Homo sapiens: one gene and its partner. The protein of the gene in region 1 interacts with the protein of each later gene in a biochemical or structural test. Each region holds a gene or a part of one and is shown in the gene's direction. Other genes may lie near its edges.

Region 1 (3,500 bases):
GAAGCTATACTTGCATGACAAAGCTGGGACCCTAAACTCCCTCCTCCTGTTGGATCCCTCTTACAAGAGTTCTTAAAATCTGTGGCAAGCTGCAGCTTAGGGAACATCCTTTGTTGCAGCAAACCTCCCTAGAGTTCAGTACTCCCTAGAGTTCTCTTCCTTCTGTTTTTTTCATAAGAGATATGAGGACCTACGAACAGTGACATTTGTCTAGCCACTTCTAATGCAGACCAATTTGGGGGGATTCATCAGATGCCAGGTGCTGTTTATTGGGGAAACAGCCTTATTCCAGCCATTATTTGTAACACTCAAAGATCTTTTGCCTCTGGCATCAGCTGCTATTGAGTGAGGGCCATTATATGTAATTGAATTCCTAGAACGTGTGGCACCTTTAAGTAGAAGAGGAAAAAATACAACTTAATTTGTCATCCAAGGGCAGGGACTTGTTGGTGCAAACACAGCTGGGCCCTGAGGCCTGGCTCCAGTGAGTGTGGAGGACCAAGGGGACGGGGGCAAAGAGCTCCAGCCTTGCCACCGTAGCCCTCTCGCCAATTGGGAGAGTGGCTTGAGGCTAGGGCGGGGGGCTTCCTGCTGGCCTGTTTGGGCCACCATAGCCACTGTAACCCACACCTGGCATGGCCCTACCAAGCCTGACTCTGGGGACAGGCACAGCTAGGCCTGAGTGGGGGTGGCATGTTTCCTGAAGAGTATCTGTTTTCTCTGGTTCGTCTGCTTTGTCATGGACCCTCTGTTGCATGTTGAGCAATCACTGTCTCCTCTGTCATGGAGCGGACTTGGCCTCATGCTGGCATATGGCATATCAGGGTCTGGCCTTGACTGTTTCTGACACTGGGATGAACAAAAATGTGAAAAGAGAACGAATCCAACTGATTTCTCTCTTCTGTTTGCTTTTCCCTCCTCTCATGCCCACCCCTACCTCCATCTCATCACCATTTAGGATGAATCTCTTCAGCGTCTGCAGAAGGAGTCTGACATCTTACAGAGAACATATGCACACTACTTCGATCTCACAATTATCAACAATGAAATTGATGAGACAATCAGACATCTGGAGGAAGCTGTTGAGCTCGTGTGCACAGCCCCACAGTGGGTCCCTGTCTCCTGGGTCTATTAGGCCTCTCCCCAGATATCTGAGCATAACTGGGAGCACCTCATTTGTGGAAAAGCCTCTTTGTTATCGGCCTTGTGTCAGCAGGTCATGGTCCCTAGAGACTACCTAGTTGTAGTGTGACCTACATTTATAATTATTGTCATGTCCGAATAGATAGGAGGAGAAAAACAATTACACACTAATTTAAAGAGACAGTATCTTTTTTAATCAGTTCTCCTAAACTTTAATAAAATGTATCTTTAAATGTATGTATTATTCAATCCTTTGGAATGTTATATTTTTGGAAATCATAGCTTTTTATTTCCAAGGCCCCTAAAAACTGCACAAAATAGATGCTGCTTTCTATAATCTATTTTAATAATAATAAACAATGATTCTGTTACCTTGACTGGGGGTGGAACACTACATTCTTTTTAGAGTCTGATTTTATGGATTGGAATATTGGGATATCTTTCTTTCCTTTATTTATTTGAAATAATTAGTGTAGTGATTACAAAACAGTCATAAATTTTTAAAGGCCTTTTTTCTCTCTTTTTTTTTTTTTAGAATAGTATTTTTTTTTAAGTCCTTTATGTAACATCCAGATAATGTGATACTGTCTCTTTGAAGCACCCTGTAAACCTTTTAGAGATTTGAAGTTGGGTCTTGACTCTTAATGCATGTGGACAGTCGCGAGCGTTTATGCTGTCGGTGTGTCTGTGTTGGACAAAACAATCTGTAATCTACAGCAAAGTACATTCTACATTCCGTTCATGGGGCACACCCAGGGGAATAAGAATAAAATGCTATTATGACTAAGTTGTAAACCTATGCACATCCCTTGCATTTTGGGCAACTTTATAAAAAAAAAGAAACTGATTTTTATTAATAATAATCATGTAGTGAAATGTGTTTGTAATTTTGTCTCAATTTAATTTGTTGTAAGGTGGGGTGGGGGGAATTGCTGGTTTCACCATTTCAGATCTGTGTTGTCTAAGAGTATTAACGTTTTAATTAAGCAAAGAAATGATTTTTAATCTGTATGTAATTGTTTTAAAGCACCCATTTTAAGAGAAAATACTGTGCAATGAAGAAACCAGTTTAGGCATTTGCTATAAACTGAAATATTCCAAAAGAATCATCTATAACAGCCCTGTAAATTCCTTTAAAATGATAACTAACAGGACAGTTTGACCAATTTTTTTTAAATATACTTCCTTTTATGTGTTCAATAATTAAATGCCTTTGGGTCCTTCATTTCATTATAGATTTGTTCAGGCTTCCAAGCTGATAATCTTTACAATTGTATAATTTGTTAGATGCTCATTGAACCTTTGAAGGCCCAGGAGTGAGTATCAGTTGGCAGGGTGACAAAGTAGCCTGCCAGAGCACAGCTGGACCACGTCTGACTCGCACAGAGCCATGCGCCCAAGGGCCACGGGTGTACTGGAGGCCACCTGTGGTCTCTCCTTCCTCTTGCTGTATCCCTTGGCACAGGGGAATCATCTGTCCTTGTTGCTTTAGAGACATTAACCATCTCATAACTCTTCCATGAAGTCACATTCTTCCAATACAGGAGATTCGGGCTGGGGTTCTCAGACTCTTTGCCAGAGGTCAGTAGAATGTTTTTCATTAGCATGTGAGGGTGTGAAGTGCTTATATTAACCTGTGATCCTTGAAAACATACCATCATTTTTTGCTTCTTGTAGGTTAGATGGCCTTGTCACTTTGTGCCTTGGCAGGATGTGCAGGGTGTGTTCTGAGCTGAACAGCTCCTCTTAAAGGACCAAACAGAGAAGGCATTAGTATACTTCTTTTACATTGTCAACACCATACCCGCCTCCGCCCCCCACCGCCTATTATTAAATGGTGGCGATTTTTTTTTTTCTGATGTTGTTCTTTGCCAGTGACCAGATGAGTCTGCAACTTACTAACAAGGTATTGAGTGAACTACTTCTGTATGGGCCCCACAGTGGGGTGACCAAGCCACCAAACCAGAGATAAGCTCAACAGTGGTCTCACACTAGATAGAGAGAGAAACCTTCAAAGAGTTGGGTAGGGCTGTGTTAGAACTGATTCGAATCTGATAGATGCCAAGGCCAGACAGTCGTTCCTGGTATGGTACTGACCACAATTTCGGGCTCTTAGTGTGAAGGTGCGCACTCTACCTCTTTTCTGGTGAAGCACAAAGACAACTACAACTAACACATGGGAAACAGAAACTTCCCTCCCTCTAGTGGAAACCCCCACGCCCCCACTTGCCCTTTGAGCCCACATCTCCAGAGATGCTGATGATGCCTGTCTTAAGCCATCTGCCATATTTATAAAGGTGGATTAAGCAGAGGAGGAGAAAAGCAATGCCAACTTAAATGTCTGTGGCCCCACAATT
Region 2 (3,500 bases), on another chromosome or scaffold:
TCACTAAGGCTTCTTTAACAATTTCTATAATTTCCTATAATGTCATTTATATAGCATCTTAGCACTTTTCACATAGTTTAAATTCAAACTATGATATCTATATGTGTTCATTTATTTACCCGAAATTTACATTTTTTATCATATTTCATGTGTCTAATTATTTAATACAATTTTATTCTCTTTTTTGTTTAATCTGGTGAGCAGGAATTACTAAATTCACCTGGCAGGTCTAATCCTGTGGCTATAATCAGAAGATCACTGAAAATTTTCTGGAAACCAAACTATTCTTTTGTGTTATAGTCACTGTTTCCCCTTATAATTGCTTAAAAAACAAACACACACACACTTTTTTTCAAGGGGTTATATTTTCTGAGTGCCTTTTAGTTTTTAAATGGATAACTTGAAGATATTATAAAATCAGTGACTTAAAGTAAAAACAAACAAACCAAAAAACCTATACACCAGTACTAAGTTACCTTAGTTCAGAAAACTAGCTCCCTAGCTCCCAGGAGGTAGCCAGACAGGCCAGGAAGCACACACAGGTGGGTCTGAGGCATTCAGTCCTGGAATGGTCTGCTCAGTCTTGCAAGGTAATCATTAGATATGCAGAGTCCTTTCAGGCTGTATATTAGTTACATTTTATTTTATTTTATTTTATTGATTTATTGATTTTTTTTTGAGGCAGGGTCTTATTCTGTCGCCCAGACTGAAGTGCGGTGGTGTGATCACTGCTCCCTGCATCCTTGACCTCCTGGGCTCAAGCAGTCCTCCTGCCTCAGCCTCCCAAGTAGCTGGGACCACAAGCATGTACTACCATGCCCGGCTAATTTTTTTTTTTTTTTTTTTCATAGAAACTGGGTCTCCCTATGTTGCCCAGGCTAGGCTCAAGTGATCCTCCCACCTCAGCCTCAGGCGTGAGCCATCAGGCCCGGCCTAAGTTATATTTTTACATTGTTTTGGAAACACATTAGAAAAAAATATTTGCTGCATATGTGACAAAGGGTTAATACGTGATACTGTTTCTGTTTATGGATTTCAAAATCCATCTATCTAGGTGAACTATGTAGATTTACCAATACTTGACCATTTTGACCATGAAAAGTATCAGTAATATGGCTTAACCTAACATAAATATAAGAGATATATGAAAGGGCATATAAAAAATATTAACAGTGGCTTTCCACTAGATGCTGGAATATAGATGCTTTTTATTTTTTTCTTATATTTTCTCATTTTTCTGCAGTGACTTGTTTCGGACTCAACATTGTAAAGGTAGATGATGCCTAAATAAAATTAGTACCACTACTATCTATTTTGGATCATAATACATTTTATTTTAGAAAATAATTTTGTATTATACCATAATTGATTAATATCTGCCTTTTAATGGAGATATATTATTAATTATTTTCCATCTCTCCTTGGAAGTAAGAGCATATAACATATATACTTTTTCTTATCTTTAAAGAGGTTAATAGTCAGCTATGTGTACAAGAGTCTAATGACCTTTGGAGGCTATCAAGATGATTTTATGGTAGTCATTAACAATACACATTCAAAGGACAAACCAACAGAGAAATTACTTTTTGCCATGGCAAAACCCAAGGTGAGTAGAAGCCTTTCTGCCAACTTTTTTGTCCTAGTTGTTTTCACTTAGTCTTAGCCAGAAGGCCAAAAAGCAATGCTAATTGTTTTCATATTAAAACATTTATTCAGCAAAGACTGCATTCCAGATGGGAAAACAGACGTTATTTATAGTCAAACAAACATGGGTCCAACTTACATCATCTTTCCAAGCTCTGGTTTCTTTGTCTAAAAATATGGTAACATACTCCCTACTTCTTTTGGCTTAAAAATTAAATGAAGGAAGTTTGTAGGGTACTTAGCCCAATGCCAGGTATATAGAAGATTCAAAATAAATAGTTGTGGCATTAAGTTATTGCTGCCTGGTACTTTATACACATTATCTTATTCACTTGAGGTTATTTGCTTTATGGACTCATTAGAGGAAAGACTGGGATTTTATAATTAAAACATACTTGCTCCTTTACGACTTTTAACAAACTGTGTAGTTTTAACATCTCTAAGTAAAAGCAATAAATAAATGGATTACATTCTAACATGTAATTCTAATTGAAAGTGATTTTCCTACAACTTTAGCTGTCTTAATGTTATCAGATAAAAGAAATTACTTCTTCGGAATCTGAAGCTTTTTTTACAAAATAGATGTCTTTCTTAATTAAGCCTATACTTAAGTGAAAGCAGCTAACCATTAAGTGCAGATCAGGGAGCTCAGTCTTTAGTGAAAATAGAGAGTTCTTATGACACTAACTTTCTTAATTCATATATTCACTAATGTGGCTTTATGATAATTTGATAGAGTTCTACTACTGACTGTCACATTTCCTAAGAATGCCACTCAATTTGATTGTTTTTGAGATTCACTCTTTCTGCTGGTTTAAGTAATGAAAAAACGTGTGGCTGCCTTGATGGTGCTGGACATGTAAGCACTTCATTGTTTGATCTAGAGAGAAGGGAATTCTGGTAGCCTGGGCACTTGCAAATGGAGCTCACCTGTGGCCAACACTTTACTCTCTTCTGGAAGTGATGAGAACTTCTAAGGAGCAAAACAATTCTGTTTTCCTTGTTTTAGATTCTTGAAATCACTCTTTTGATCGCCAGTTACATAAACAACTTCCATCAGCAAAAGGCAGCATTTCACCACCTCTCTGCTCCAGCACTGCTCTCAGCCCAGACCCGGGGACCCCAAGCCAGAATGATGGGAAGCCAGCCTCTTCTGTCAAGCAGCAGACCGACCAAAGGCCCCACCTTACTCTGAAAGCTGGGGAGCCTGAACATTCACTCCTTGTCCTCCATGCTGTGGCTGTATCAGCTCCCTACAAGTTCGTTTACACCTGGCAGCACGGCAGCCACACACCGGTATTCCAAACCTTAACAATGAAGGGGGTTAGTCTCTTTTATTTGATTCTTAAATATTCAAATAAATATTAACAGTAAAACATAAACACAAAATTTGCCAACACACTAATTTTCTTATAGAGTAAATGAGTAAGAATTCATCATTTTTTCCATCTCCCTTCTCCCTTGTCATCAGACACATTGTGCAATGTGGCTTTTCTTTTCTTTTCTTTTTTTCCCCTTTTTAATATTCTGGCAATCTTTAGAAAGGGAGATTCCAAACTCCCATTTGGTAAACCAGTTGATTATTTGGAAATGTTCACTGCCAAAATAGTAAGTGCTATAACTAAATGCGCTTTTAATTAATGATATAGTGTTTGGAAAGGAGTAGAACATGCAGCATAAGAAACTGCTGCAGAGTGGTGCGAGGAGTACATTTTCAGAGCAGGTGCAGTACATCTTCCGGCTCTATGAATCATTATGTGAGAAAGCAGGATAACATTAGGTAACCTGAGCCTCCTGTGTGGTATTAGAAAGTATACCGTCACCTTTTCACATCACTGGAGTGTAAAATTTAAAAC

The links. The genes of interacting proteins can lie anywhere in the genome.
Region 2: the proteins of CASK (region 1) and PLEKHH2 interact in a test that uses a peptide from one of them, tested with the Homo sapiens proteins (one large-scale study listed by IntAct).

Annotation. Positions count from the first base shown.
Region 1 is NC_000023.11:41,518,055-41,521,554, reverse strand, and holds part of CASK (peripheral plasma membrane protein CASK), read left to right. Parts: intron 1-958; coding exon 959-1,135; 3' UTR 1,136-3,500. UniProt on the Homo sapiens protein: Multidomain scaffolding Mg(2+)-independent protein kinase that catalyzes the phosphotransfer from ATP to proteins such as NRXN1, and plays a role in synaptic transmembrane protein anchoring and ion channel trafficking.
Region 2 is NC_000002.12:43,762,760-43,766,259, forward strand, and holds part of PLEKHH2 (pleckstrin homology domain-containing family H member 2), read left to right. Parts: intron 1-1,468; coding exon 1,469-1,606; intron 1,607-2,653; coding exon 2,654-2,839; 3' UTR 2,840-3,500. UniProt on the Homo sapiens protein: In the kidney glomerulus may play a role in linking podocyte foot processes to the glomerular basement membrane. May be involved in stabilization of F-actin by attenuating its depolymerization. Can recruit TGFB1I1 from focal adhesions to podocyte lamellipodia.